Homo sapiens: one gene and its partners. The protein of the gene in region 4 interacts with the protein of the main gene of each other region in a pairwise test. Each region holds a gene or a part of one and is shown on either strand. Other genes may lie near its edges.

The links.
Region 1: the proteins of CNOT1 (region 4) and PATL1 interact in binary tests that used the Homo sapiens proteins (3 or more experiments, as listed by UniProt).
Region 2: the proteins of CNOT1 (region 4) and TNRC6C interact in binary tests that used the Homo sapiens proteins (3 or more experiments, as listed by UniProt).
Region 3: the proteins of CNOT1 (region 4) and CNOT6 interact in binary tests that used the Homo sapiens proteins (3 or more experiments, as listed by UniProt).

The regions. Positions count from the first base shown.
Region 1 is NC_000011.10:59,659,038-59,667,396, reverse strand, and holds part of PATL1 (protein PAT1 homolog 1), read left to right. Parts: intron 1-432; coding exon 433-544; intron 545-7,927; coding exon 7,928-8,145; intron 8,146-8,359. UniProt on the Homo sapiens protein: RNA-binding protein involved in deadenylation-dependent decapping of mRNAs, leading to the degradation of mRNAs. Acts as a scaffold protein that connects deadenylation and decapping machinery.
Region 2 is NC_000017.11:78,045,017-78,053,375, forward strand, and holds part of TNRC6C (trinucleotide repeat-containing gene 6C protein), read left to right. Parts: intron 1-3,828; coding exon 3,829-6,432; coding exon of another isoform or gene 6,433-6,441; intron 6,442-8,359. UniProt on the Homo sapiens protein: Plays a role in RNA-mediated gene silencing by micro-RNAs (miRNAs). Required for miRNA-dependent translational repression of complementary mRNAs by argonaute family proteins.
Region 3 is NC_000005.10:180,573,818-180,579,656, forward strand, and holds the end of CNOT6 (CCR4-NOT transcription complex subunit 6), read left to right. Parts: intron 1-170; coding exon 171-383; 3' UTR 384-4,541; downstream 4,542-5,839. UniProt on the Homo sapiens protein: Poly(A) nuclease with 3'-5' RNase activity.
Region 4 is NC_000016.10:58,619,225-58,627,583, reverse strand, and holds part of CNOT1 (CCR4-NOT transcription complex subunit 1), read left to right. Parts: intron 1-8,359.

The DNA of each region.
Region 1 (8,359 bases), on a different chromosome or scaffold from region 4:
AAAGATGACATGAATATAATGAGAAAGATGAGAATTTTGCTGGAAAAGATACATAAAGATACAAGAAAATAAAGGGTTCATTATTAATTGTCATCAGTATTCCAACCAGTGATGTAAGGAAAGTTGTGGGCTTAATTTCTTGGTTGCATGAGGAACTGCTGTTCGTGGATTCTTGATAAAATAGAGAAATGGAATGCTGTGAGGTGGGGCAAGAATTAAATGAAATAAGGATTAGGAAATAGAAAGTGAAAGAAAGATGATGAAATCTTCCAGTGTCAGGGAAATTGGGAAGTAGAAAAAAAATGCCATCTTTACAAAAAGTCATAATGAAGCAATTATGTTCATTGAGAAGGTAAGATGAACATTTTTAGAACATTTTTAAAATGAGGGTGTGAATTTCATGAATAACTAATGTCTTTTCTTTTTTTTTAGTCTTTGGAGGATTGTCCTCTGGATGAAGATGAAGATGCATTTCAGGGACTGGGAGAAGAAGATGAAGAGATTGATCAATTCAATGATGATACATTTGGGTCAGGTGCAGTTGGTAAGTGACATCTTTCGCTTATAATATCATCTTAGCCTCCTGCTCTTTTCAAGTGCTGTCTTTTAGAAGTGCTTTATCTTATTAGGGGTAACCTTATTCACTAACTTGGCAAGATATTCTTCTATTCCTCATCTTAGAATAGTTCATTCTTCACTGGAAACAGCACCTATCCTGCTCCTCTGGGTCTCTTTTTGCCTTACCTATAAAATCAGGTATTCTGTAAGCCTTGCCCCTTCCAGCTATATGATCGATGACTACAGGTTGCCCCTATGAGGGATTCAAATGTTTAGAGAAGTAAACATTTAAGAGAGATTTAAATTAATCCTAGATGAGAGGAATTTTTATTTGTATAACATATAACTTATGGAAAACTAGTGTACTAGTAGAAAATTCAGATTCTAGGATGTGGGTATATGTGTTTCAAAATTTAGTCTATCACTAGTATATAACTTTGCAACTTATAGTATCTTCAAAATATAAAGCTTTTTATAGCAAGAATTTTGGGGGTCAAGAAAGGACTCATAAGTTAGAAAAGTATGCACAGATGAAATTTTGTCCATCCCTGGGTATAGATACATATTATTTATTTATTTATTTATTCTTTTTCGAGATGAAGTCTTGCTCTGTCACCCAGGCTGGAGTGCAGTGGCACGATCTTGGCTCACTGCAACCTCCGCCTCCTGAGTTCAAACAGTTCTCCTGCCTCAGGCTCCCGAGTAGCCGGGATTACAGGTGCCCGCCACCACACCGAGCTAACCAGGCTGGTCTCAAACTCCTGACCTCGTGATCCGCCCATCTCGGCCTCCCAAAGTGCTGGGATTACAGGCCTGAGCCACCGCGCCCAGCCTATAGATACATATTTTAAGAGTTGGAAAAAGTTTAAAAACTGAAGAGCCAAACTAAGGTTACAGGCCACGGGGTTATAAATGCCAAGATGGAAAATTTAGGAAGTAAGCTTATATGATAAAGTTTGAGAACACATGTTACTTAGAACAGGTGTAGAACAAGTGGAGTAATAAATTGAAATTTAAATTTTTAAACTGTATACATACACATATATTTGTTTTGAGACAGAGTCTTGCTCTGTCACCTAGACTGGAGTGCAGTAGCATGATCTCGGCTCACTGCAGCTTCTGCCTCCCCAGTTCAAGCAGTTCTCCTGTCTCAGCCTCCCAAGTAGCTGAGAACACAAGCGCCCGGCTAATTTTTGTATTTTTAGTAGAGACAGGGTTTCTCCATGTTGGCCAGGGTGGTCATGAACTCCTGACCTCAAGTGATCCCTCCTCAGCCTCCCAAAGTGCTGGGATTACAGGTGCAAGCCACCACGCCTGGCCAAAACTGTATATTTTTAAGCAAATGAATAGGTAAGAGTCAATGCAGATATGTTTGCTTAGACTTGGTGCTGGAAAGCAGCAATAACAGCGTTTATGTTCAAATGTATAAATGTGTGTGATTCTTTTGTAGTCGCAACACTTCTGTCTGTGCAACAAATACTCCAAGTTAAGTCATAAGGAAAAAGAGAAAATTTAGCAATAGTCAGTAATCCCAAGATGTTGAATATCAAAAACAAATAAGAGGCCTTAAAGTATTATAATGGTCACTGGTTTTGCAGTGACCTAATACATTTATTAAAGCTTAGACTGACTTGAATAAACTGGCAAAAATGAAGGTGTTTTAATATTGTCAGTCATTTGTAAAATTCATTAGAGAACTAAAACTTTGTTATGATTAGAAGCAGCAAGAAAAGTGTTGAAAGTAGAAGCTAGACTCATGATGGAAAGGAATCAAAGACCTTTTGGATTATAGGCATGGGTTAGGAGATGAGATTGTCCAGGAGGATAACATGATCCAAGATGCTATTATCTCTCTCCATGGAGATCACAGGCAAAGAGATGTAGAGTGGAATTACAAAAGCAGGAAACTGATGTGAATTGCAAATTATATTTGGAAGATAGTTTAGTGATAATCAGTAGGACACAATAAGCTATTTGTGGTGGTTCAAGCCCACAGCTCTCAGCACTTTGGGAGGTCAAGGCAGGAGGATCACTTGAGGCCAGGAGTTCAAGACCATCCTCGGCAACATAGTGAGACTCTTTCTCCACAAAATTTTTTTTGAAAAATAGCCAGGCATGATGGTATGTACCACTTAGGAGGTTGAGGCTGAGGCTGGAGGATCCCTTGAGCCCAGGAGTTCAGGGCTGCATCAGCTATGATGGTGCCACTGCATTCCAGCCTGGGTAACAGAGCGAGACCTTGTCTCTAAAAAGTTAATTAAATACTTTAAAAATAGAATACCATAGAAGCTACCAACATGTGCTTGTTTCTAGAACTCTTTTTCTATTAAAATACTGTACTGAATGTTAACCATTTTTTCAACAAATTCTTCAGTATTAAAATGAATTAGCTAGAATTGATTTATAGACATTAAAATGAGGCAGCATTGTACCATGTTCTCAGTTTTCAACCTGGACAGAAGAGGAAGAGTCATACCTTCTCATTGACTTCCAGAGTGCTATGGACAGTCTTTTTTTCCTGAGTTTCTATTTTTTCTCATAAGATGGGAATAATATTGCCTTAAAAGGATGTTAGAGTGTCCGGAACGGTATTTTATATGATGGGAAAGAAGAAAAGTGTACACGTGCTGAAAAAGCCATTAGGTTTACACAGTAAAAGAACAGGTAGTACAAAGTTAAGGCAATTAAATAGCATATGATTAGCCCACTTTGTACCTTAGGGCCAAAGGGTGATTAGAAAGGATTTTTTGGCCAAGAAAGTTTATAATAATATAGAGAAAAGATTTCCAAAGGTGAGCCCTTTCCCTTGAGAGTGTAATGTACTGGAATTGTAAAGTGAAGATCTTAATTCCTCATAACAGCTTGGTGTAAATACTATAAAAAGAAAATTGTTTTCCAAGTCAACCTGTGACTTCTTTGATACTCCTCTGCAGGTTGATATAAAGCTGGTATAGAGAGTTTAAATCAAGAGGTGAAATGTCAGACCTTTGACATTTGTTTTGATTTTATGATTTTTAATTCATATAGCGGGCATCTGGAATAATACCTGCTATTACAGTAGACATTTTAGGTCACTGGCTACAAATGGTCACCTTTCCTTAAGAAACTAGTCTTCTGCATGAAAAAATGTTTGCATCATCTTAGAGCAATAAATAGTGTTGCAGTAATCCCAACTCCTTCTCTAAAAATAAAAGCTTACACTTAACATGGTGCTTATTATGTGCTAGGCACCATTCTAAATATTTTACATATATTGTTAATCCTCATAGCAGCCTTGTGAGATAGGTACTATTATTATCCTCATTTTAACAAATGAGGAAGAGTGACGGGTTAAGTAACTATAGACACAATTACTGTAAACTACTAGTTATGTTTAATAGTTTTGGGGGAGTCTTTGGAAATCTCCTGCCTCCACTTGGAAGGAATCACCCTCCTTCCTACCTCCCTTTTATTGATAGCTACTATAGTCTTTAGAGATTGAGATTGCCTTAAAATTAAATCACTTCTTCCTTTTTATTTTGTTTTCATTCAAAACTCCCTGAGACAGGCTTCAGGGGTTATTACAAGTATAAGTTTATAGAAGCAGCCAGGAATTCAGTAACCCGTATCAGAGTATAGGTTAGTTCGTTATTACGGATAATCTCTTTCCCTTCATTTGTCTGTTATTCTTTTGCCTACCTTTTATCATTTTGACCAATAATGGACTCAGGTCAAGCACTGGCATATCTAAGTAACTATATTTTTAGGTCATTTGAAAAAGATACAGGGTGAAATATTGTTTTATAGTAAGGGCACAATATCTCTAAAATACTACTTCAGATAATTTTTTACAAGAGTAAGAAAAATCTAAAATGATGATGATGGTATTTTATGGCATAGATTCCTCTGGTTACATGTTTGAAAATGTAACAATCAATTCACCAGAGATCTATTCTCACAGAATATGGCGACTTAACCAATATTTTTAAAATATTATTATTAAGGGGAAATAGATTATCCATATTTGATAGGATTTGGTAAAGTTAGCAAGCATGAATACTGGAAGTAGTGATAGAAAAGCATGCAAATTAGAACTCTACTGCATTAGAACAAATCCACTAACAAATTAACTTCTTAAATTTGGGAAGTAAATGTTTTTACAAATCCCTCAATTCAGGATGATAGATTCCCACTCTTGTGGCATTGCTAAGTTAGTAAAGTTGCAAAAAACAATTTATCCTGTCCCAGCTTACTGTTCCTTACCAAGGATGACACAAATATGAATGTCACATTTGGTTTTTAATTACATTATTCTTTAAATATTTTCTTTCATATGACTAGTCATTTAAATTAACACTGTAATTTTCATTTAAAGTGGATTTTTCCATTTTTTGGAGCACATCAGGATAGGCTTATCAGAGACCATCATCATAAAATGGCTACCTTAAATTCTTTTCTGTAAGATGACAGTTTAGAGGAAGAGTGCCACCTGACTAGTCACTCAGGTAAGAGGAAACTATTGGGTGGGAAAGAAAATACCACATAATTATAAAGAAGACCCATGTCCCGGAGGCTTAAGTAAGGATATTTTTATAGCTTTTGCCCACAGTCTTTATCCCAGTGATGGCACAGTGATCCACAACTTAAGGAATCCCTTACCACAACTAATACATAAATCAACCAAACTAGGCAGTGGGTCCTATGATACCAAAATTATATATTTGAAAGTCCCACTTCCCTCACTCTTTGGATCACTAGTATTATGTGATACATCGTTGTATGATTAAAAATTACATATATATAGCAAATTTTAACTGTTAATGTAATCTGATTCTAAAAGGAAATTAGTTTATTTAAATAGTCACATAAAATGCTAAGATATGTATGATGTTATTACAGTATTAATTATTATATTGGAAAATTGTAAATAATCCAAATGTTTACCAGTAGGGGATAAATTACATTATAGTTTAGCAATAAAATGCAATCTTATGTAGGTATTAAAAAGAATGAGTTACTATCAGTAGTTATGCCTGTGTGCATGCATGAAAAGATGTCCAAGACATATTGCTTAAATAAAAAGAAACAAGTTAACTTTATAAACTTAACACAGCTTAAAACTGTTTAAAACTTAACACAGCTGTGGAATTGTGGGGAACTTTCACTTAAGTTACATGTGTTTATGGTGTTTGAATTTTTTAAACATGTATTTTCTCTGAAAGCAGAAAAAAGAAAGTCTCTGTTTCTGTGTTGGTTATAACCTGTTATCCCTGTCTGTTGAATTTTATAAAACATATAAAGGATGTAACTAAAAAAAGAATACCATATAACATATACAAAATAATACTTTTTGTGGGTTAGAAAGTAATGCATATAGAGATGAGGTAAAGGAAGAAATAAAATGAAAGGATTATTTAGGAGTAGCTCCATTGAGGAGGAGGAAGAAGTTTCACATTTGAATACCTGAAAAGAAAGGCCAGAGGCAGTGGCTCAAGCCTGTGATCCCAGCTCTTTGGAAGGCTGTTGCAGGTGGATTGCTTGAGCCCAGGAGCTTAAGACCAGTCTGGGCAACATGGGGAAACCCCGACTCTACAAAAAATATAAAAATTAGCCTGGTGTGGTGGTACAAACCTGTAGTTCCAGTTACTTGGGAGGCTGAGGTTGGGGGAATCACCTGAGCCCGGGAGGTTGAGACTGCAGTGAGCCAGATCACGCCATTGCACTCCAACCTGGACGACAGTGAGACCCTGTCTCAAAAAATAAAAATAAAAATACTGAATGGAGCAAAACTGTGAGTACAGCTTTCATGATGGAAGCAGAATGGAATAAGATTGGAGAGAACTGGAGTGAGATGCGTTGGAAGTAAGGTCTAGCTCCAGAGCAGCTGATAGAGGGTTCTGAAGATTGTAATCTGTGCTGTAATGGGATTCCAAAACAGAAAAAATGATGCCAACATACCAAATGCAGAAACAACCTTAATGTCAGTGCTACAGACTTTATAGTAGTGTGCAGTAATAGCAGACATAGTTAAGATAAAAGAGGAAATGCCCCTTCCTCTTCCCTAGCCTGTTTTCAGCACAGCAGCCAGAGTGATTCTTTTAAAAGTTAAGCCAAATGAAAATTTCCATTGGCTTCCCATTTCAATCATAGTGGCCCAGAATGAGCTCCCTCCTCATGACTTCTTGACCTCATTTTCTTCTACTCTCCCCACCCTGCTCATTCCATTCCAGACACAGTCCTCCTTGCCGTTTCTCAAAACCATCAATCTCTCACCTTAAGGCCTTTCTTTATACTGACTGTCCCTCTGCCTGGAACCCTCTTCTCCCAGATATCCAAATTGCTAACCCTCTTACTCTTTAGAATCTTTGCTCAAATGTCATCTTCTCAATGAGGCCTACCTCTGACCATCTATTTAAATTTTCAATCTGCCTTTCTTCCTTTATATTCCTACAGCAATTTCATCTTCTGGTATAGTATCTAATCATTATGCTTATTGTCTATCATCTCTCTCTTTCCTGCTTGCATGAAAGTGTTATGAAGGCAGAATCTCTGTGTCTTTTTGTACACCAATGTATCCCATGCGTCTAAAACAGGGCTTGTCACATAATAGATGCTTACCAAATATTAATTGAATGGAACGAATGGATTCAAAAGCATGTAAAGAATGTGGCACTTAAAATCTAAGAGGAAGTTGTATGCTAATGCTATGAGTTTTAACTTCCCTTTAAAGTTTTTGCTTGAAATGTCATAGAATCTCAAAACCAACTAGTAGTACTATACATATCTATCACCAATTTGGGAAACAGTTTCAGAATATAGTTTGGACATTATTGATAATGTTTTAAGCTATTAATTCACATGTTTGAATTTTATTCCTGGTATAATGTTATTTGCTTTTACTTATAAAAAGCATGCTTTACGTGTCCCTTAGTTTAAACCTTATTTCCTGTTTCTAAGTGTAAACTTAACTTTCTACCTATCTTCTGGAATTATTCATTTGCTTAGCAGAAGAATTGTGTAGGCCGGGCGTGGTGGCTCATGCTTGTAATCCCAGCACTTTGGGAGGCCGAGATGGGTGGATCATTTGAGGTCGGGAGTTTGAGACCAGCCTGGCCAGCATGGTGAAACCCCACCTCTACTAAAAATACAAAAATTAGCCAGGTGTGGTGGTGGGCGCCTGTAGTCCCAGCTACTCCAGCTACTTGGGAGGCTGACGCAGAGAATTGCTTGAACCCGGGAGGTGGAGGTTGCGGTGAGCCGAGATCACGCCACTGCACTGCAGCCTGGGCGACAGAGTGAGACTCTGTCTAAAAAAAAAAAAACAATAATTGTGTAAAACTTTTTTGTACCACTATGAACTATTTCTTACATGAACTGTGTCATCTTATAGATGATGATTGGCAGGAAGCACATGAGCGCCTGGCTGAATTGGAAGAAAAGCTACCAGTGGCAGTTAATGAACAAACAGGCAATGGAGAGAGAGATGAAATGGACTTGTTGGGTGACCATGAGGAGAATCTGGCAGAAAGGCTCAGTAAGATGGTGATTGAAAATGAACTAGAAGATCCAGCTATTATGAGGGCAGTGCAGACCAGGCCAGTTTTACAAGTAAGTAAGTTACTGTGATTTGAGAACTATAGCAGACTAAAAATTAAAGTGAAGTATTGAACTTTGCCATTTTATTTTATCTATTATAATGAGAGATTTACATATACCATAGAAAATTGATAATATATTTCCTGATGATAGAAGTTCTAGAGATAAACTTGGGGAATAATGTATATTCTGGAGCCCTATAATTTCGTATTCTAAAGCAGCTTGA
Region 2 (8,359 bases), on a different chromosome or scaffold from region 4:
GGAACTGTCTGGAGCACAGAGCAGGAGAAAGAATGATATGAATGGCCTCAAAAGAGACCCAACCATTGGTGACCCACTGGGCATTCATTTGGAAAAGAGCACTGTATGCAGTGTTGAGCACATTATTGTGGGTGGGGCAGTAGGGGGCATGGGAAGAGACCTGTTGGAAAGTTATTTACAGTAATCCAGTCAAGACATGAGGGTGCTTGGAACAGGGGCAGTCAGAGGGAAGTTTTATTTCTTGTTTTAATGGAAAAGGTTCTAGAAATACCCAATATGTAAACTCAACAGGCATGACTTCATCCTTATGGCATCCTATATGGCCATCCTTAGGGCACTTCAGCTATTGGGGATGGATATTGGCCTTTGTAGAAGTGACTTTGCTTCCTGCCAGTATTGCCCCATTGGTGGTTATTTTGCTGTGGCATAGTTGAGATCTACACCTCAAAGCCCGGGAAGGTCTGAGTAGGCGGCGTCATTGTAGTGGAAGTGGTTCCCTCAGAAGATGGACGTGCTTGTTCAAAGCAGTCTGGGCTGTACAAGTGCAGCTGATTGGTGACTTCAGCTAGAACTCAGATTGTAGCACTATGCATGTATGGTTTTGTTTGCCCAGGAAGCATATATTGTTTGCCTATATGTGGCAAGCATTTTGAATGGAAAACTAAAAAGATATTTGCCACGCCCTCAAGGAACTCACCTTCAGAAATTAGACACTTAATTCAGGGATCAGATGGGTTTTTAATCAGACTGCTCTGCCGCCTGATTTGTATCACATTTAAACATAAAAATTAAAAATTTTGAAAATATTTTTTCAATAGAAGAAAGTATATAGAAAATAATATAACTGTGTTCACAATAGAGATTTAACATAATATCATGCCATATTTGCTTCAGGGCTCTCTATTTTAAAAATGTTATAGGTATCATCCTCTAACCCCATTCTGGTCCCCATCCCACCCCCAGAGGGAACCACAATTCAAAAATTGTAGTGTTGTGTCACTTTCATCTACAGTGTGACATTAAAGTGCATTTCTTGATTATTAATGAGGTTGATTATTGTTTCATATGTTAATGGCTTATGAGTTTTCTCTTTTCTAAATTGCCTGTTCCTATCCTTTTCCCATTTCTGGTTGGGTTGTTGGCCTCTTTCTTACCGATTTTTAGGATTCTTTTTTTTTTTTTTGAGATGGAGTCTCACTGTGTTGCCCAGGCTGGAGTGCAGTGGCACAGTCTCGGCTCACTGCAACCTCCACCTCTTGGGTTCGAGTGATACTCCTGCCTCAACTCCCAAGTAGCTGGAACCACAGGCGTGCACCACCACACCCGGCTAATTTTTGTGTAAGTAGAGACGAGGTTTCACCATGTTGGCCAGGCTGGTCTCGAACTCCTGACCTCAGGTGATCCACCTGCCTCGGCCTCCCAAAGTGCTGGGATTACAGGCGAGAGCCACTGCGCCTGGCCGGGAATTCTTTAAGCTGATAACCATACATTATCTGTTGTATCTTCTCCCTGCCTGTGGCTTGTTTTTTTAGCTTTCATTATATGATATCTTTTGTTATATAGATGTTTTTAATATTAGCATAGTCAAATTTATCACCTGTTTATGTCTTACGTATTTCATGTCTTCTACAAGATGATACAATGTCCAAGGTCATAGAGATGGTCTCCTTTGCTTCCTTAATAAGCTTTAAGAAGTTTTGCTTTTCCTAATTCGCTCTTTACTTTATCTGGCATGTATACGATATAAGGGATCTACTTTCATTTCATGTGGCTAGACAGTTGTCCAACAGCATTTATTAGCCACCAGCTTATAATGCTATCCTTCTTTCAAACGTGTCATATAATTGAGTATGAACCTGTCAAATTGGGGGCTGAGCAATCCTCAAGTCCTCAAAGTAGACCATTAACAAAGGGCAGATCATTTTACAGTGTGACTGTTGTGGAATGGAACCAATAATACTGTGTATTCGAATGGCACCTCACATATGGAAAAGAATGCATTGGTCAGCCAGGTTGTTAACCCCCTGCTTTCTCGGTGTGGGTTGCAGTGAGTGCTGTCTTAGTCAAGAGGCAGCCTGCCTTATGGCACAACCTGTCCATGAGGGAACCCAAACTGATGGTAAAATGAAATGTGGTAATATTTGCTGGCAACAAGCCATAATCTCTGTGTGTTAACTTGGTCTTATTTTCTGTGTTAAATGAGGAATGGCTTATTTATCTCTTTAGTTAGTTATTATATTAGATAGTTTTTAGAGTATGTGCAAAACCAAATTGTCATAAACCAGGGTTATAGAGCCAACCCCTAATAATTGGCAGTGAAAAGAACCTAGTCATTTTATAGCAGTTTCAACATTTAAAGTTTTCTGTTGCCTGTCTTCATTTTTCCTTTGTAGTTTTCACCTGGAATTACGTACCTACTTTGAAATCACCTAGAGCATAATTCTAAAATCATTACATTACTCTTAAATCAGGCAATAAAAATCTCTTTTAGGTTGATATTAGCTTTAGTATGGTCTTTCTAATGCTAATTTTTTTTGCACACTTCCTTTTTTTCCTTTAGCTCCATCAAACTTTAAAAGAGAATTTATGTGGGAAATTCATGTTTTAATTGTCCATACGATTTTTCTTGTTAAAATAAATTTGAAGAGAACATAATTAAAAGGATCTAAAAGAGAAGAAAATATTTTATTGCAGTTTATTTGTATATTGTAGTATTTAGAGAAACTCACCAAGGATTTCTAAATCACATATGTGAGTTTGTTGTATGTTTGGGTTAAATTATTTTTTTAACATTTCTTTTACTTTATTTTTTAGTGATACATACTTGGAATAAAGTCTGCCAAAAAGTTGATCGAAATATAAGTTTGACTGCAATGTTGGAAATACTCAAATAATTGTTAAAGTCATAGGAAATAAAATGTAGATCCAAACAGGGGATTCTTTAAAAGGACCCGAAGAGTTAAATACTATAAGAAGATGGCATATAAAGTTATTCTAGGGATCTCCAAAGAAAAGGCTCTAAAGAAATAGAAAACAAGGATTGAGAGAATCTTTAGAGATCCAAAAAGATAGCACTTGTGGGGCTGAGATTCTTCTTCCTTCTTTTTCTTCTTTTAGTGATGTCCTTGAGCTACAGATTTTTTTTTTTTATTATGAATGTGCAGGAGACAGTGATAAACCAAATTGCAGATAAGATCAGATAAAGTAGTATACAGCTAATTAAACATTTCTAATCCTTAGTATTTTTGATAACATAAGATAGCATTGTCTCATATGTCTTTTCTCTCTTTCCTTCCGTCACCACTTCCCCCACCCCAAATATTGGTTCTGTTATGATTCTGCAATGCAATTTACAATTTTTTTCTACTGAAAGCCATGTTTCGCCTCTATATAATACTGTAACCTAATTAGAGGTCTTAAAGAGAACTACAAGTTTTATTCAAAACTCTACGTGAACTTACTGTCATTGCCAGTGTTTCTCAGTCTCTGTATTTATAGGAGTTGCAAAGTCACTTATCTTTCAAAGCTGCCTTTACTACAGATGCTTTCAGAGATGCTGATGTGCTAACGTGCATTGTGAGTATTCTCCAGGGGGAATAATAGTACAGTGTAGTGGTAAGAATTGATATAATTTTAAAAACATTAACGCTCTTTAAAATGGGATCTATTAAGAAGACAAATAGCTTTTTTCTTTAAGTCATTTTTTTAGTGTTTGTCATTCAGATTTGAAGACTTGAAATAAAGAGCTTCCCCAAAGACTAGTTAACAGTTGATTCATTGACAAATGAGTAGAAAATCTAATTTTGAATTTTGTTTCATCTTTTTCAGATCTCAGTCATAGTGGATTGGCAGATCATTATGAAAATTCCCACTGGGGACAGCAGCCTACTTACAGAAGCGAAGCCAACTGCAGCTGGGATAAAGTGATAATAGATAGGACTGACAAGGAGGCGTGGCCTTCCATCACAGGAACAGAGACTGAATCTGCCTCAGAATGTACTACAGACACTGACTCTGCCTCCAACTGTGGCTCAGAGAACAGTAGCATGGCTACAGGGAGTGCCCAGGGCAACTTCACTGGACATACCAAGAAGACAAATGGCAATAATGGCACCAATGGCGCACTCGTCCAAAGCCCTTCTAATCAGAGTGCCCTTGGAGCAGGGGGAGCGAACAGTAATGGAAGTGCGGCCAGAGTGTGGGGTGTAGCCACAGGCTCCAGCTCTGGCCTGGCTCACTGCTCTGTCAGTGGTGGGGATGGAAAAATGGACACTATGATTGGAGATGGGAGAAGTCAGAATTGCTGGGGTGCTTCCAACTCCAATGCTGGCATTAATCTTAACCTTAATCCTAATGCCAACCCAGCTGCCTGGCCTGTACTTGGACATGAAGGAACCGTGGCGACAGGCAACCCTTCCAGTATTTGCAGTCCAGTCAGTGCCATAGGTCAAAATATGGGCAACCAGAACGGGAACCCAACAGGCACTTTAGGTGCTTGGGGAAACTTGCTGCCACAAGAGAGCACAGAACCACAAACGTCCACTTCTCAGAATGTGTCTTTCAGCGCACAACCTCAGAACCTTAACACTGATGGACCAAATAACACTAACCCCATGAACTCTTCACCCAACCCTATCAATGCAATGCAGACAAATGGACTGCCAAACTGGGGCATGGCTGTTGGTATGGGGGCCATCATCCCGCCCCACCTGCAAGGCCTTCCTGGTGCTAATGGATCATCAGTTTCTCAAGTCAGTGGGGGCAGTGCTGAAGGAATAAGCAATTCTGTGTGGGGACTGTCCCCAGGTAACCCTGCCACAGGAAATAGCAATTCTGGGTTCAGTCAGGGGAATGGAGACACTGTGAACTCAGCATTAAGTGCTAAACAAAATGGATCCAGCAGTGCTGTGCAAAAGGAAGGAAGTGGAGGAAATGCTTGGGATTCAGGACCTCCTGCTGGTCCTGGAATACTCGCCTGGGGAAGGGGCAGTGGCAACAATGGCGTTGGTAATATCCATTCAGGAGCTTGGGGCCACCCCAGCCGAAGCACCTCTAACGGTGTGAATGGGGAATGGGGAAAGCCCCCAAACCAGCATTCCAACAGTGACATCAATGGGAAAGGATCAACAGGGTGGGAGAGTCCTAGTGTCACCAGCCAGAACCCTACCGTACAGCCTGGTGGTGAACACATGAACTCCTGGGCCAAAGCGGCATCTTCTGGAACTACAGCAAGTGAAGGAAGTAGTGATGGTTCTGGCAACCACAATGAAGGAAGCACTGGGAGGGAAGGAACGGGAGAAGGCCGAAGGCGAGATAAAGGGATTATAGACCAAGGGCACATCCAGTTGCCAAGGAATGATCTTGACCCAAGAGTTCTGTCTAATACTGGTTGGGGACAGACTCCTGTAAAGCAAAACACTGCCTGGGAATTTGAAGAATCCCCTAGGTCTGAAAGGAAAAATGACAATGGGACAGAGGCCTGGGGTTGTGCAGCTACTCAGGCTTCAAACTCAGGGGGGAAGAACGATGGGTCCATCATGAACAGTACAAATACCTCTTCAGTATCTGGGTGGGTCAACGCGCCACCTGCCGCTGTGCCAGCAAACACAGGTTGGGGAGACAGCAACAACAAAGCGCCAAGTGGCCCGGGGGTTTGGGGGGACTCGATAAGCTCTACTGCTGTTAGTACTGCTGCTGCTGCCAAGAGTGGCCATGCTTGGAGTGGGGCCGCAAATCAGGAGGACAAGTCACCCACCTGGGGTGAGCCTCCAAAGCCCAAATCCCAACACTGGGGAGATGGACAAAGATCAAATCCAGCCTGGAGTGCAGGAGGGGGAGATTGGGCAGATTCATCGTCTGTCCTTGGACACTTGGGGGATGGGAAAAAAAATGGATCTGGATGGGATGCTGACAGTAATAGGTCAGGGTCTGGTTGGAATGACACCACGAGATCTGGGAACAGTGGCTGGGGCAACAGCACAAATACAAAGGCCAATCCAGGTACAAACTGGGGGGAGACTTTAAAACCTGGCCCCCAACAGAACTGGGCTAGCAAACCCCAAGACAACAATGTGAGTAACTGGGGAGGAGCTGCTTCTGTGAAACAGACAGGAACAGGGTGGATCGGGGGGCCGGTACCGGTCAAACAGAAGGACAGCAGTGAAGCAACTGGCTGGGAAGAACCCTCTCCACCGTCCATTCGCCGCAAAATGGAAATTGATGATGGTACCTCAGCTTGGGGGGACCCAAGCAACTATAACAATAAAACTGTAAACATGTGGGATAGAAACAACCCGGTCATCCAGAGCAGTACCACGACCAATACCACCACCACCACCACCACTACCACGAGCAACACCACACACAGGGTCGAGACGCCGCCCCCGCACCAGGCCGGTACTCAGCTGAATCGATCACCGTTGCTTGGTCCAGGTAGGAAAGGTATTTCATGTTTCTTTACAAGTAAAAAAAAAAAAAAAAAAGCTTATTCTCATTATATATTCATGAATACTCCGAGTAGTGTTTTTTATAGCAAATAGCATTAAAATAATTTAAGTTCCCTATCACCGTGCAATATTGTATCTAAAGATTATCCAGTGAGAGCAAAGTAGGATCCTCTGGTGGTTTTCTATTCAAGAAAAAAATATATTAAGCACACTCAGTAGAACATCAAGCGAATGTTTTGGTGGTGGCGGTGGTGGCCTGGGGTGGAGATGATGGATTTGAAAGCAATGACAGTGCATGATTCCAAGATTTCGTAACCATTTGGATACAGGAGCAAAGAAGATAGGATAGACATGGTTCAGAACTTGGGCAAGTTGGCAGATGACTGTGTCAGTTCACTGACATGCCCATGAGCACAGCAGGAGGCACAGAGCTCCAAGTGTCCAGTGAGGACAATAAAAGGTCCCAGATACGGAAGACCAGTTCTCAGCCAGAGGGGCAAGGTCCAGAGTAGAGAGATTTTAAGGTGGCAAAGTCGTGAGCATGTTTCAGAGCTGTTAGAAAGGAACAAGTGGAGATGAGAATGAATGAAGAGGGAAGAGATCCCTGTGTCCAGCAGGACAAGGGCACTTCATCCATCTCGTGAAGCAAGGAGCAGGAAAGAGCGCTGCACAGGTGGGCCAGGCTGTCATGGCCAGAGGGCCAAGGCCACCTTCTGGGGTTCTTTTCTCTCTGGGAGTGTGAATACTAGCCCAGAGTGGAGGAGGGCTGGCTAGGAGCAGCAGCACGAGTAGAGAGGGAGCATGCATTAGCCCATGTAGAGGACAGGAACAGAGAACTGACTTGACTGGGGCCCCTGGAGGGTTGCTGGGCAATGTCAGGGCCCAGAGATCACCATACACAGTGAATTTATTGGGACCTGCCATGTACTAGGCTGTACTCTAGTAGCTGGGGAAACTGCAGGAAGCAAAACAGTCAAAACCCTGCCATGGAGGGGTCTAGATCTAGTGAGGGTGGCAAACAACACACGAATTAAAGTATATACGTAGTGTTGGGCAGTGATGGTGCAGGGAGGAAACAGTAAGCCCAGAAGGTCTGCATGCGGGGGCCACTGGAGTTGGGGAATCACCATCTTGTGTAGGGCAGCCTGGGCATTTGGGCACCTTTTTGGTTTTTGTCATAAGCGTTCAACAGGAGAATGTCCTGCCTGCTGCATTAATTCAATTATGACTGCCCTACAGGACCTCCCCTGGCCCACCAGCTGGGCCCTCCAGCCTCCTCGTAGACTTCTTGGTGGTTCACTTGTGTACCTCTCTGAGGCTGCCACATCAGGAATCCTTTATGGATCCTCAAGACAGTTTTAGCCTCCAGCTAACGCATCAGTGTCACTAAACCAGAGGTCAAAAATCAGTGGTCCGTGGGCTGCACCTAGTCCCACAAATGTGCCTTTTTGGCCCACATTTTTTCTGTGAATTGGCATTTTTTTAATGCAAATGTTTTATATTAAATTCCAGATTTCTGGCTTCCTTTGGAAACCTGAAAAGTCTGACATTGGATTCACATGGCAGCAGTCAGTCAGAGCCACTTGCCTTCATAAGGGCCTGTGCATTTTCTCCATACCATGTCACGTTGCCCCCCGACCCCTGACGGTTCCCAACACTGAGGCTTTTGATCAGTAGCCACTGAGCATCATCAAGCTTGCGCTGCTGTTCTTACGCTGGGCCTGTTTACGTTAACTGACTGGTTCCTTGGAGTACTTGAATTTGTGATTCCAATTGTTTACTAATATATGACTAATATTTCTAGGCCCTTACATTTTATAAAGTACTTGGGGGGATAAGGAGAAGCAGGAAGAAGGAAAATGAAGGGATTTGAAAAATAAGATTAGGTCGGGCGTGGTGGCTCATGCCTGTAA
Region 3 (5,839 bases), on a different chromosome or scaffold from region 4:
TTTGCACGGGGACCATTTGGTGTATGTAGTACAGACCTCATCCTACAAGCTAGTAAGTTTCACTTGTTCTGTTCTGTTCACCAAACATGACATAAAGGCATGTCTTGAAAGCACTGAGGATTTTAGTGTTGTCTTATACGGTGCTTATCTTTTTTTCTGTTGTTTTTCAGGGTATAATAGACTACATTTTCTATTCTAAACCTCAGCTGAACACCTTAGGCATCCTGGGCCCTCTGGACCACCACTGGCTGGTTGAGAATAACATCAGTGGCTGCCCGCACCCCCTCATCCCCTCTGACCACTTCTCACTTTTTGCACAACTGGAGCTCTTACTGCCTTTCCTGCCCCAAGTCAACGGCATCCACCTTCCTGGCAGGAGGTAGTCAAGCACCTTCAGAGGACAGCCTTGATTCACTTGTAAACTTGTGAAAATCTGAACATAGGGGAGTGAGGTATGGCCACTGAGGATTTTTGCTTGCTTAAGAATGATTTGGACTTTCAATCTGATTATTTGATAAGGATATAGTATGAAAGCCAGGTGCTAGCAACAGACAAATTCTGAGCCCAATATGCTTTATACTGCTAGACAGGGATTGGTGTGTTTGCACCTGTCTTTCATTTGTCATAAGAGATTTTCCTATTTCTTCTACCCAATAGAATATTTTCATGCCTGGAAATAGGAAAATGTGTGAACAGCGTATTCTCTTCACACAGAAATCTGTAGCACTGCTTTTTTGAGGCCAGTAGCAACATCCAGAGATCATTCTTCCATACTTTACTCCCTCCTTTTTCAGACTTGTTTGTAAAGTACAGAATCTGAATTTAGCCTTTATGATTGTATATGATCCACAGAAGACCTGATTTATGAAATTTTGTACTAAAATCATTTGGAAATGATTGTATTGTAAACTGAGGCTAAATTTTTTTTTAAACCTGTTTCATGTGTTATAAAGGCCAGCTTGTAAAAGAAGCTGCAACAGACTTTCTCTGCTCATGATTTGCACTCTTAGGGTTTTGTTAGCCCTTTTGTACTACTTTCTTTTTAAATTGAGAACATGGTTCTTTACATATAAATCTGCTTCAACCTTAGGATGTTTTCAGACCAGAGGCAACTTATTCATGAATTTTTATGAAAACTATCTACTAGGACAGATAAGCTGAACAGTGATGATCTGTAGACATTTATGGACTGAATGTAATGGTTGATATATGTACATTCTGATATTTTTAAATCTTTAACTTTTTAAAGTTAAAAACCTACAGCTGCTTAGGTCCAGCTTCTTAACTCTTTTTGAGACACTTCCTGTCCTATCTCCACTGTGCCTGCCTAAATTTGTTCTCACCAAGCACTGCCTGTGCATGCAGAGAAAATCTGTGCATCCTCTTTTATATTTTTAAAATACTGTTTAACATTTGTGAGAATTTTATGAAAATGCTTTTGTATGAGCTGTGGCTTTTTCCCATTGTGAAGCATTGAATATCACATTTTGGAACATGTTATAGGGTGAGTCCCTGGATCTTTGCTCACCAGATCCAAGCACTGCTTCTCGGTGTCATTGCAGTGTGCTGCTTGTCACCCAGAATACTACTATCATGTGAATTCTTTTTGTCGTCAGTGTCTTTTCCTTAGTCTTTTTGTTGTTGTTGTTGTTGTTGTTTTAATCATTCCTTTTTTAAGAAGAAGTAATTTTCCATTTATGAAGCAGTATGAATTAGATGTATTTTCAAAACAGGTCCCTAAGACAATTCTTCAGATCATTTTTAAAATGACTAAGTCATTTTAGTATGTCAAGCAAGATAAAAATTACATCATACCGTCTATTTTGCCCATAGTGCCATTTAGAGATGAAAACCAGCTTTAACTTTGCAAAGTGAACATGTACATGGTCTGCTCTCATTTATTCATTCTTCTCTCAAAAGTCAAATGAATGCAGAGGGAGCTTGGTCAAACTGCTTTTGTTTCAACTGCAGGCAGGGGAGCAAAAGGACGCCATGTGAGCATTAGGAAAAAAAATACTCACTCTTACTAACAATTTTTATACAGAAAATGAGTCATTTTGGAAATGATTCTTATGTTTTTTTTTTTTCTCCTTTTAGAAAATTCTCCAAAAGGTTTTGATGTTGAATCTTGGTCTTGGACCTGTTTTTTCCTTTGAGGGTTTTTTGTTTTTTGTTTTTTCTAGGATTTCATTGTGATGTTTTGGTTTTGTTTTTTGCTTTTTGTTTAAGTTGTGCTGACACCAAACACATCCAGTTTATAATCAGTACATTGGAAAGCTGGTATTGATGTAGAACCAGTGCATAACTTTTTATGGGGTTTTGTTATTGGTTTTTTTTTGTAAAGTGTGAATAAAAGGTATGTTTACTCATTTTTCCTGAACACTGTGTTGGTAATGTGCATCATGACAATTTCCAGTGAAGGTGAGCTGGAGCTGGTTGGACTAATGAGACTGAGGAAGCAGCTTTTCCTACGATCTGCATTATGTAATCACAGGTCCAGAGAGCTTTATGGAAGCGGGAGAGGAGGAGCACTTACTCATGTTGTATTTGTTAATGGAGGATGTCATCTTTTCATAGATGCTGGAACTAGAGTGCACTTGTTAGATGCTAAAGGTTTGAGCTTTACACAAAATGTCTTCATCTGTATTTGTTATTGTCTACAATATATTTGAATTTGGGGCAGCATATTAAGATGTAATGGCCTGTTATGTCTTGAAAATACTTGTTTTGCCTCTTCCAGGCATACTGCATTCTGTGGATCAGTTTGAACAGCTTCTCCACCTTATTTGGACAGTGATAAATTGAACCAAGAGTGTAGATTTACAAGTGTAACCTTCAAAAGAGGAAGAACTATTTGGGGTCTGTAGGTAATGAACAGTCACACCAAAATAGACTATGATGCTTTTGTTAAGAAAGGTTTCATGTTTTAGATATTTTCCGTGTCCTAAATAATTTTCAATAATCTATAATCCCTAAAATGCAATAAAAACTAGTATGTTTTCACGGTGTATATTTTTTTTCAAAAATTCTGTAACAAATATATTTAATGTGTTGCCATAATGTCATTTCAGTATTTTTGCTGGATAAATCCATTTTAGAAATGTCTTACAAAAAGTTTAGGGCATGTTTTCTGTTTTAAAGACCAGAAGTTTGAAGGCACCCAAATCCTTGTCGCCAATCTCCTGAAGTACAGCTTTACCATATTAGTGGTCATTATTTATGCTTTGAGAGTTTCAATATTGTTCGTCAAGTTAACTTATGGCATAATTTAAGCTAAAGTTGTAGAAATGAATTGTTGAGTGCAACTTTCATAGTCCCAAAGATAGGCAGAGAACATCTCCAGAAATGTGTGTGTGTGTGTGTGTGTGTGTGTGTGTGTTTAATATGATTTAGTGACAACCAGGAAAACTTACTTGGGATTATTAGCACTTTCAAACTTAGGGACATTATTAAATTGGATGGAATGCACTTCTAAATGTTTAAATTAAAATTTCAAAGCTCTTTCGAGATTCAGGTTCTCAATAATAATATTCAAGTTTTAGAGTTTCACTTTGTACTATTTAAATTTATGGAACTAGTTTCCATACTGACTTGTAAGGTTTTGGGGTCATATATAAGGACTAAAGCCAAGCTAGGCAAAACAATGACAGCACCGTTTTTTCAGTGAAGCTCTCAGAATGTCCAGTACAGATGTTGCAGATAATTCCAAGAACTCCTTCAGCAGGTGTTCTTCACCATTCGTAAACAGTATTTTAAGATGTTCACTTTGCTCTTCTTTTTGGTTACATACATTTTAATAACTGGTATGTTGAAGTAGTGTCTAAAAGTATCTAGTCTTTATTCACAGTACATTATATTGTGTGATGCACTGGACTAACTCTTGTTTACCATTCATGTAACAAAACCCAGCACATTATCTGCACTATAAGCTCAAAGAATGTCACATCCGCCCAGACAGCTCTTTGATGAGGGTGATGGGAACTGAATAAACCATACGGACTGGCAGTAACAAGGGCTTTTACTGTTCTGTTCAGTGGAACCTTCTTGGTCAAATTGTAATTAGCTAGCATTATATTTATATACAGGGTCTTTTTTCTTTACCGATGTATTTTCCTACTCATAGCCAACCAATAAATTCAGTATCTGTTTCAAATATTTTAGAAGTGTAGTTTGTATAGCTGTAGTACTGAGGTTTGAGGAAAAATAAATGTTGATCAGCAGACCACGTATTTAAAATTCTGAATCTTCTGGGACAGGGTTGTAACTCAGCCTTCCAAAGGGAAGAGTGCAGGGGGACGGGGCCATGATATGGGGAAATGGTGTAAACTAATGTATTTCTTTATTGGCTGTTATTCTGTATAACACTCATATCTTTGCCAAAGTTCAATTTTATATTTAGGCAACTGATGGTCCTTTTGCATTTAGGATTTTCGTTGTTGTTACCTTATACCTCATGATATAAGGAATGGGCTCATGTGTCTTCCGTCTTTTGGAAGGAGGTTGACATATTTTAAATAAATGCTTTTAAATACAGTAGCAAACATTGTGTTGGGGTTATAATAATTCATTAAATGTCTTGTTGCCTGTATTTTGTTGTATGTGTAAACTCTAAAAACGTGTGACTTCCTAAGTCTTCCGATGTCACCTTACAATTGAGAAAACAACATGAGTTCCTTTGCTTTTAGAACGACTTCCATAGCAGACGTACATTTTTATGTACATGTGGGAAAAACCATGCAAAATCTGGACAGTTTAGATAATATTTCCTTTGATCTCCAGTTTTTAAAGTAGGCATGTTCTACTTAATCCTTAATACAGTGATGCACATTAGGGGGATGTATGCTGAGAAATGCATCCTTAGGTGATTTTGCCATTGTGTGAACATCAGATTGTATTTACATAAACTAAATGGTGTAGCCTATTACACATCTCGGCTGTGTGCTTAGCCTGTTGCTCCAAGGCTAGAAACCTGTGCAGCATGTTACTGTATTGAACACTGTAAGCAGTTGTAAGACAATGGTAAATATTTGTGTATCTAAACATGGAAAAGACAGAGTAGGCTGGGTGCGGTGGCTCACACCTGTAGTCCCAGCACTTTGGGAGGCTGAGGCAGGTGGATCACGAGGTCAGGAGATCAAGACCATCCTGGCTAACACGGTGAAACCCCGTCTCTACTGAAAATACAAAAAATTAGCCGGGTGTGGTGGCAGGCACCTGTAGACCCAGCTACTCAGGAGGCTGAGGCAGGAGAATGGTGTGAAACCTGGAGGCGGAGCTTTCAGTGAGCCAAGATCGCACCGTTGCACTCCAGCCTGGGCGACAGAGCGAGACTCCGTCTCAAAAAAAAAAAAAAAAGTGAAAATACAGTATAAAAAGTGGTATGTCTGAGGCTGGGCACAGTGGCTCACGCCTGTAATCTCGTTTTGGGAGGCCGAGGTGGGCGGATCACTTGAGGCCAGGAGTTCAAGACCAGACTGCGCATCATGGCGAAACCCCATCTCTATAAAACATAGAACAATTAGCTGGGCGTGGTGAGACGCCTGTGGTCCCAGCTACTTAAGAGGCTGAGGTGGGAGAATTGCTTGAGCCCAGGAGGTGGAGGTTTCAGTGAGGAGATTGTGCCACTACACTCCAGCCTCAATGACAAAGTGAGACTCTCAAAAAAAAAAAAAAAGATACCTGAATAGGCAGCTCTAATATATCTTATGGACCATCCTCATATATGTGGTCCATCTTTGACCAAAATGTCATTATGCACAGTGCATGACTGTATGTAGTTTTACCTCTATGATAAGTTTTTGTTCCTCCATATAATTGTCAAAAAAGTAAGTATAAAGTT
Region 4 (8,359 bases):
CTTCTTATTTGGAGTCAAGTCATTAAAAAAAGCTATGAAAACAAATGGAAATGCTTGCCATCTTTTCAAAACATGCTTTAAAGTCTGATTTCAAATTACCTTGCATGTTACTTTTTCTGAGTATGTTTTAGGATAGATTCTGATCTGGTTATGAGAAACTTTTTTTTTTTTTTTTTTTTTGAGATGGAGTCTCGCTCTGTCACCAGGCTGGAGTGCAGCAGCACACAATCTCGGTTCACTGCAACCTTTGCCTCCAGGGTTCAAGCAATTCTGCCTCAGCCCCTCGAGTAGCTGGGACTACAGGTGCCCGCCACCACACCCAGCTAATTTTTGTATTTTAATAGAGACAGGGTTTCACCATGTTGGCCAGGATGGTCTCGAACTCTTAACTTCATGATCCACCCGCCTCACCCTCCCAAAGTGCTGGGATTACAGACGTGAGCCACGGTGCCCAGCCGAGAAGCTTTCTTTTTAACCAGTTTGAATTTATGAACTTGATTATTTCTTTCTGTGTAATAACAAACACGTCTTTGGTACCCAATACCAGAGAATGGAATTTGTCCACAATAATTCTAATTGAGTGCTGTCATATTTTGGGACTAATTTTTTTGGCCCAGGCAAGTGGCTCAAGCCTGTATCCTAGCTTTTTGGGAGGATGAGGGAGGAGGATGCTTGAGACTAGGAGTTAGAGACCAGCCTGGGCAACATGGTGAGACCCTGTCTTTACAAAAAAGAAAATTAAATTAAAAAAAAATTTTGCAAAATATTTGTTATGAGTATTTTGTCCCACATTAACAAAAATAGTAGTCTGCCTTTTTTTTTTTGAGACGGAGTCTCACCCTGTTGCCCAGGCTGGAATGCAGTGGTGCGATCTCAGCTCACTACAACCTCCGCCTCCTGGGTTCAAGCGATTCTCCTGCCCCAGCCTCCCAAGTAGCTGGGATTACAGGCGCGCACCACTGCACCCAGCTAATTTTTGTATTTTTGGTAGAGACGGGGTTTCACTATGTTGGTCAGGCTGGTCTCGAACTCTTGACCTCGTGATCCACCCGCGTCGGCCTCCCAAAGTGCTGGGATTACAGGCATGAGTGACCGTGCCCAGCCTAGTAGTCTGCCATTTTGAAATGCTGTATTTTATGAACTTGGTATATCTTTTTTTTTTTTTTTTTTTTTTTTTGAGACGCAGTCTCGCTCTGTTGCCCAGGCTGGAGTGCAATGGTGGAATCTTGGCTCACTGCAACCCCTGCCTCGCAGGTTCAAGCGATTCTTCTGCCTCAGCCTTCTGAGTAGCTGGATTACAGGTGCCTGCCACCACAGCCAGCTAGTTTTTGTATTTTTAGTAGAGAAGAGGTTTCAACGTATTGGCCAGGCTGGTCTCGAATTCCTGACCTCAGGTGATCTGCCTGCCTCAGTCTCCCGAAGTGCTGGGATTACAGGCGTGAGCCATAGCACCCGGCCTGAACTTGGTATATACTTTTATAAAAGAAAAGACTTTCAAGTCATATATATTAACTGAGGCATTTCTTTAATGACCCTCTGACCAAACTAAAACTTCCTGCTGTGAAGTTTCAAAATGGCATCCCATTGAGTGACTCTATATATAGAAGAATCTAGCAATTCCTTTTCTGTTTGCTCACAATTTTAAAGATGAATCTTTGAAAGTTAAAAGGGGCTCAACACCTTCTGCCCCCCAGTGTATACAATAGTTTTTTTTTTTTTTTTTTTTGAGACAGGGTTTCACTTCAATGCCTAGGCTGGAGTGCAGCGGCACAATCCCTGCTCACTGCAGCCTTGATATTCTGGTCTCAGGTCAGTCTCTCACCTCAGCCCCTGAGTAGCTGGGACTACAGGTGCATGCTAACCACACGTGTCAAAAATTGTTTTTTTTCTTTTTTTTTTGAGAGAGAGTTTTGCTCTTCTCCCTCAGGCTGGAGTGCAGTGGTATGATCTTGGCTTGCTGCAACTTCTGCCTCCCGGGTTCAAGTGATTCTCCTGCCTCAGCTTCCCAAGTAGCTGGGATTACAGGTGCGCGCCATCATGCCTGGCTAATTTTATATATATATGTTTTTTTAAAACAGGGTTTTGCTCTTGTTGCCCAGGCTGGAGTGCAATAGTGTGATCTCTGCTCAGTGCAACCTCCGGCTCCTGGGTTCAAGTGATTCTCCTGCCTCAGCCTCCTGAATAGCTGGGATTACAGGCGCACGCCGCCATGCCCGGCTAATTTTTTGTATTTAGTAGAGACAGGGTTTCACCACGTTAGTCAGGCTGGTCTCGAACTCCTGACCTCAGGTGATCCACCTGCCTCGGCCTCCCAAAGTGCTGTGATTACAGGCGTGAGCCACTGCCCAGGCCTGTATTTTTAGTAGAGATGGGGTTTTACCATGTTGGCCATCTGGTCTTGAACTCCTGACCTCAAGTGATCTACCTGCCTCAGCTTCCCAAAGTTCTGGGATTACAGGTGTGAGCCACTGCGCCTGGCCTAATTTTTGTATTTTTTTGGTAGAGGTGAGGTTTCACTGTGTTTCCCAGGCTGGTCTGGAACTCCTGGGCTCAAGCGATCTGTCCACCAAGACCTCCCAGAGTGCCGTGATTACAGATGTGAGCCACCATACTGGCCTATGATACTTTTTTTTTTTAAGTGTACTTTTCACTCAAATTTGCAAGAATGTAGCAAACCAAATAAAGCATTGTTCACTGGAAAGCGTAGTTTGAGAAGGCAGTAATTAGAGGTGTAGACTTAATATGAAGCCATTTGTTGAGTTTTTTCGTTTGTTTGTTTGTTTTTTAAGATGGAGTCTTGCTCTGTTGCCCAGGCTTGAGAGCAGTGGTGTGATCTCGGCTCACTGCAACGTCCGCCTCCCAGGTTCAAGTGATTCTCCTCCCTCAGCCTCCCGAGTAGCTGGGATTACAGGCGCGTGCCACCACGGCTGGGTAATTTTTGTCTTTTTAGTAGAGATCTGGTTCACCATGTTGGTCAGGCTGGTCTCGAACTCCTGACCTTGTGATCCACTCATCTCAGCCTCCCAAAGTGCTGGGATTATAGGCGTAAGCCGTCGCACCCACAGTGATTTAAAGGAATGTAGTGTATATATTTGAGAAATGCATTTATATCTTTAATTCTGGAAAACACAGCATTAACTAACCTCCAGCATACCTGTTGCTTAACTGTGTTACAGTTGTTACAGGGAAATTCCTGAAATGTTGAATACGTTGCAACCATGTAGGATAATTTTTTGTTGATTCTGAGAACATAAACTTTCTTCCAGTATATTCTCACACCACCAGATGTGTGGGGTTTTCCCCTGCGCATCAAGCAAGCTATTCAGCAGTGGACACCACATGGGTATCCTCTAATTCAGTATTATTCTGACACGGTGTACCTGAAGATAGCATCAGATCCCACAGGTTGAAAGCTCAAGTCCCATAGACAGTCCCCCACTTCCAATGCTAATCTCAAGTCCCAGGTGGTTTTACCTGTGTTTCTGACCAACTGACTATAAATTGAGTTCCTAATACCCCCTTCTTTTGTTCAGTTAACTTGCTAGAGTGGCTTATGTAGAACTCTCGGAAATACTTAGGGTTTTTTTTTTTTGGAGCCGGAGTCTTGGCTCTGTCACCCAGGCTGGAGTGCAGTGGCACGATCTAGGCTTGCTGCAACCTCTATCGCTCTGGTTCAAGCGATTCTTCTGCCTCGGCCTCCCAAGTAGCTGGGATTATAGGCATGCGCCACCACACCTGGCTAATTTTTTATATTTTTGGTAGAGATGGGGTTTCATCATGTTGGTCAGGCTGGTCTCGAATTCTTGACTTCAAGCGATCGACCCACCTCAGCCTCCCAAAGTGCTGGGATTACAGACAGGCATGAGCCACTGTACCCGGCCAACACTTAGGTTCAAGAGTTTATTATAAAGGATATGGATGAGGAGGTGCGTAGGAGAAGTAAGGGCCGCGGAGCTTCCATGCCCTCCCCTGGCTACACTGTGCCTCAGCTATCTGGAAGCTCTCTGAACCCAGTCATTTATGGGCTTTTATGGAGGCTTCATTACAGAGGCACAGTTGGTTAAATCATTGACCTTTGGTGGTCACCTTAACCCTTAGCACCTTTTCCCTCCCTGGAGTTTGGAGGAGGTGGGGCTAAAAGTCCTAATCCTCTCATCTTGCCTTGATCTTTCAGGTGACCAGCACCCATGCAGAAACTACCTAGAAGTTGCCAAGCTATCAGTCAACTCAGCATACAAAAAGAAACTTACCATTCTAAGGATCTTAGAAGTTGTATGCCAGGAAATGGGATGAAGACCAAATGTATATCTCACAATAAATATTACAGTAATGTTGAAGTAATTATTTGAAATATAAAAGTGGGATGGAAGTATTTTCTTTTCTTTTTTTTTTTGGAGGCAGAGTCTCGCTGTATCCCCCAGGCTGGAGCGCGATATCGGCTCACTGCAACCTCTCCTTCCTGGGTTCAAGCGATTCTCCTGCCTCAGCCTCCTGAGTAGCTGGGATTACAGGCGCCTGCCACCACGCTTGGCTAATTTTTGTATTTTTAGTAGAGACGGGGTTTTGCCATATTGGTCAGGCTGGTCTCGAACTCCTGACCTCAGGTGATCTGCCTGCCTTGGCCTCCCTAAGTGCTGGGATTTCAGGCGTGAGCCACTGCACCCAGCCAAAAGGATTTTCAAAGACGCTATCTAACATTCTTTTTTCTTTTTCTTTCTTTCTTTTTTTTTTTTTTGGGTCAAGAGTTTCACTCTTGGCGCCTGGGTTAGAGTGCAGTGGTGCGATCTCAGCTCACTGCAACCTCTGCCTCCAGGTTTCAAGAGACGATCCTGCCTCAGCCTCCCGAGTAGGTGGGATTATAGGTGCCCACCACCACATCTGGCTAATTTTTGTATTTTTAGTAGAGACAGGGTTTCACCATGTTCGCCAGGCTGGTCTCAAACTCCTGACCTCAGGTGATCCACCCACCTCAGCCTCCCAAAGTGTTGGGATTATAGGCGTGAGCCTATAATATTCTTAAGCTTTATATTCAGAACTCAGCAGTTTCCGAGTCAGATAATTAAACGTTTGTTCCCTTAGATTTATAGCTTCTAGGTTTTGCGTTTTTTTCTTAATTGATTTTATTTTTTAGAGCAGTTTTGGGATCACAGTAAAATTGATGAGAAAGTACAGAGGTTTCCTGTATTATCTCCTGCCCCAATACATGCTTTGCCTTGCCCATTGTCCACGCCCGCCCCCCCCCCCCCCCCCACTAGAGTGGTACATTTTTTGAGATACAGTCTCGCTCTGTCACCCAGGCTGGAGTGCAGTGGCGCCATCTCGGCTCACTGCAAGCTGTGCTACCCGGGTTCACGCCATTCTCCTGCCTCAGCATCCCTAGTAACTGGGACTACAGGCGCCCACCACCACGCCTGGCTAATTTTTTATAGTTTTTTAGTAGAGACGGGGTTTCACCGTGTTAGCCAGGATGGTCTCGATCTCCTGACCTCGTGATCCACCCGCCTCGGCCTCCCAAAGTGCTGGGATTACAGGTGTGAGCCACCGAGCCCAGCCTGTACATTTCTTACAATTGATGAATCTACGCTGATAGATCATCATCATCCAAATTCTCTGGTTTACATTAGAATTCACTCTTGGTGGTGTATCTTCTTTTTTTTTTTTTTTTTTTTTTTTGAGACGGAGTCTCTTTCCGTCGCCCAGGCTGGAGTGCAGTGGTGCGATGTCGGCTCACTGCAAGCTCCGCCTCCCGGGTTCATGCCATTCTCCTGCCTCAGCCTCCTGAATAGCTGGGACTACAGGCACCCGGCTAATTTGTTTTTTGTATTTTTTGGTAGAGACGGGGTTTCACCGTGTTAGCCAGGATGGTCTCGATCTCCTGACCTCGTGATCTGCCCGCCTCGGCCTCCCAAAGTGCTGGGATTACAGGTGTGAGCCACCATGCCCGGCCATGGTGGTGTATATTCTGTGGATTTGGACAAACTATAAGGCCTGGTTTTGCTAACAAGAATAGTTGCCAGGCGTGGTGGCTCATGCCTGTAATCCTAGCACTTTGGGAGGCCGAGGCGGGCGGATCACCTGAGGTCGGGAGTTTGAGACCAGCTTGACCAACATGGAGAAACCCCGTATCCACTGAAAATACAAAATTAGTTGGGCGTGGTGGCGCGTGCCTGTAATCTCAGCTACTTGGGAGGCTGAGGCAGGAGAATCGCTGGACCCTGGGAGGTGGAGGTTGCGGTGAGCCGAGATTGCACCATTGCACTCCAGCCTAGGCAACAAGAGCAAAACTCTGTCTCAAAAAAGAAAAAGAAAGAATAGTTAGCTGGGCCAGCGCAGTGGCTCACGCCTGCAATCCTAACACTTTTGGGAGGCAGAGGTGTACAAATCACTTAAGCCGAGGAGTTTCAGACCACCCTGGGCAATATGATGAAACCCCATCTCTGCTAAAAATACAAAACTTGAGGTGGGAGGATCACCTGAGCCTGGGGAGGTCGAGGCTGCAGTGGGCTGTGATCATTGCACTCCAGCCTGGGTGACAGACTCTGTCTCAAAAAAAAGAAAAAAAAAAAGTTATCTTTTTGTCTAGTTTCAGGCTCTTGTCTTTTTTGAAATAACTTTCTAACTAATCTCCATTATAGTTTCTTTATCATTGGTTTTTGGGTTTATTTCACAAATAATATGTGGATATTGTGATTGTAAAAGATTCTAGGACTGCAGTTAATTTTTTATATTTCTGCCAAAATGCCACTTAAATCATTGCTTTGGAAATATCCTTTCTTTGTTCAGAAGTCATTCTAATACCTTCATCTGGAATTATAAGTGTTGATTCCTCCTTCCCTGTGGTACTACTGTGTTGTATTATAGTCAAAAGACTGTTAAGCAGTGGTACCCAAATATATCTTTGTCCTCTTTTTTTTTTTTTTTTTTTTTTTTAAATGAGACAGAGTCTTCGCTGTGTCACCCAGGCTGGAATGTAGTGTCGCGAGCTTGGCTCACTGCAATACAACCACCTCCTTCCGGGTTCAAGCGATTCTCCTGCCTTATCCCCGCCGAGTAGCTGGGATTACAGGTGCCTGCCACACCACGCCCGGCTAATTTTTGCATTTTTAGTAGAGATGGGGTTTCCTCATGTTGGCCAGGCTGGTCCTGAACCCCTGACCTCAGGTGATCTGCCCACCTCGGCCTCCCAAAGTGTTGGGATTACAGGTTTGAGCCACCGCACCCAGCCTCTTCGTCTTTTTACATCTGGAATGTCATCTCTACCAAAACTTTATCATTCTAGTCCAAACTCAGGTGTACTGTCTATAAATACCTAATTTCCTTAAGCAAAATTGATTTTTTGCCATCCTTGGCCAGTTTCACTTAAGTGCACCCTACAATGCCTTTTAAGTTTTCTGTCCCATAGTGAGTAAGGAGTCTCTTTCCCCAGTGCATATATACAGTTGAACTGTAATTGAATAGTGCTTCATTTATTACAGTTGGGTAAATTGATAGAATATAGCATTCTTGGAAATCGATACTCTGGTTTTTCTTTTTTTCATACTGCTTGAATGAGCAAGTAACATTTCAGAGGAAAAGATCTATCGGTGGTGGTTCATTATGTAGGTCAGGATTTTAGTTTCATTTGTGCATTGGATTTTAGAATATCATGACTATCTCTAGTAATCTACAGAGTTAAACTATTTACATCTTGGCAATTTCTTGAATTAATTAGGGAGATCTTTCTTTACCCCCAACCTTTTATTTGGATAGAGTTTTCTTAGTTGTGACCAAAGCAAATAAGGTTTTTTTCCCAGCAGTTTTTTGGACGACTAGAAACAAGATTTGAATTTTTCATTTCCTCACTATGAAAATGCAAAACTTGGCTACGCGCGGTGGCTCACGCCTGTAATCCCAGCACTTTGGGAGGCCGAGGTGGGCAGATCACAAAGTCAGGAGTTCAAGACCAGCCTGGTCAATATGGTGAAACCCCGTCTCTACTAAAAATACAAAAATTAGCCAGGTGTGGTGGCGGGCGGCTAGTCCCAGCTACTTGGGAGGCTGAGGCAGGAGAATTGCTTGAACCTGGGAGGCGGAGGTTGCAGTGAGCTGAGATCGCGCCACTGCACTTCAGCCTGGGTGACAGAGCGAGACGCTGTCTCAAAAAAAAAAAAAGAAAGAAAATGCAAAACTCTAGTGTGACCAAAAGATGCTCTTTTACAATTAATGGTCAGTGTAATAATAATAAATTTGCAGTTCTGCTGAGACTGCCTAAAGATGAAGGGACTTGAGTTTTAACAAGTTCTTTAGCATCGTAAATTGAATTCTGAGATTTGAGAGTTTTCTCTTGGTGTAGTTCTTTTTAAAATAAAATAGCTTCAAG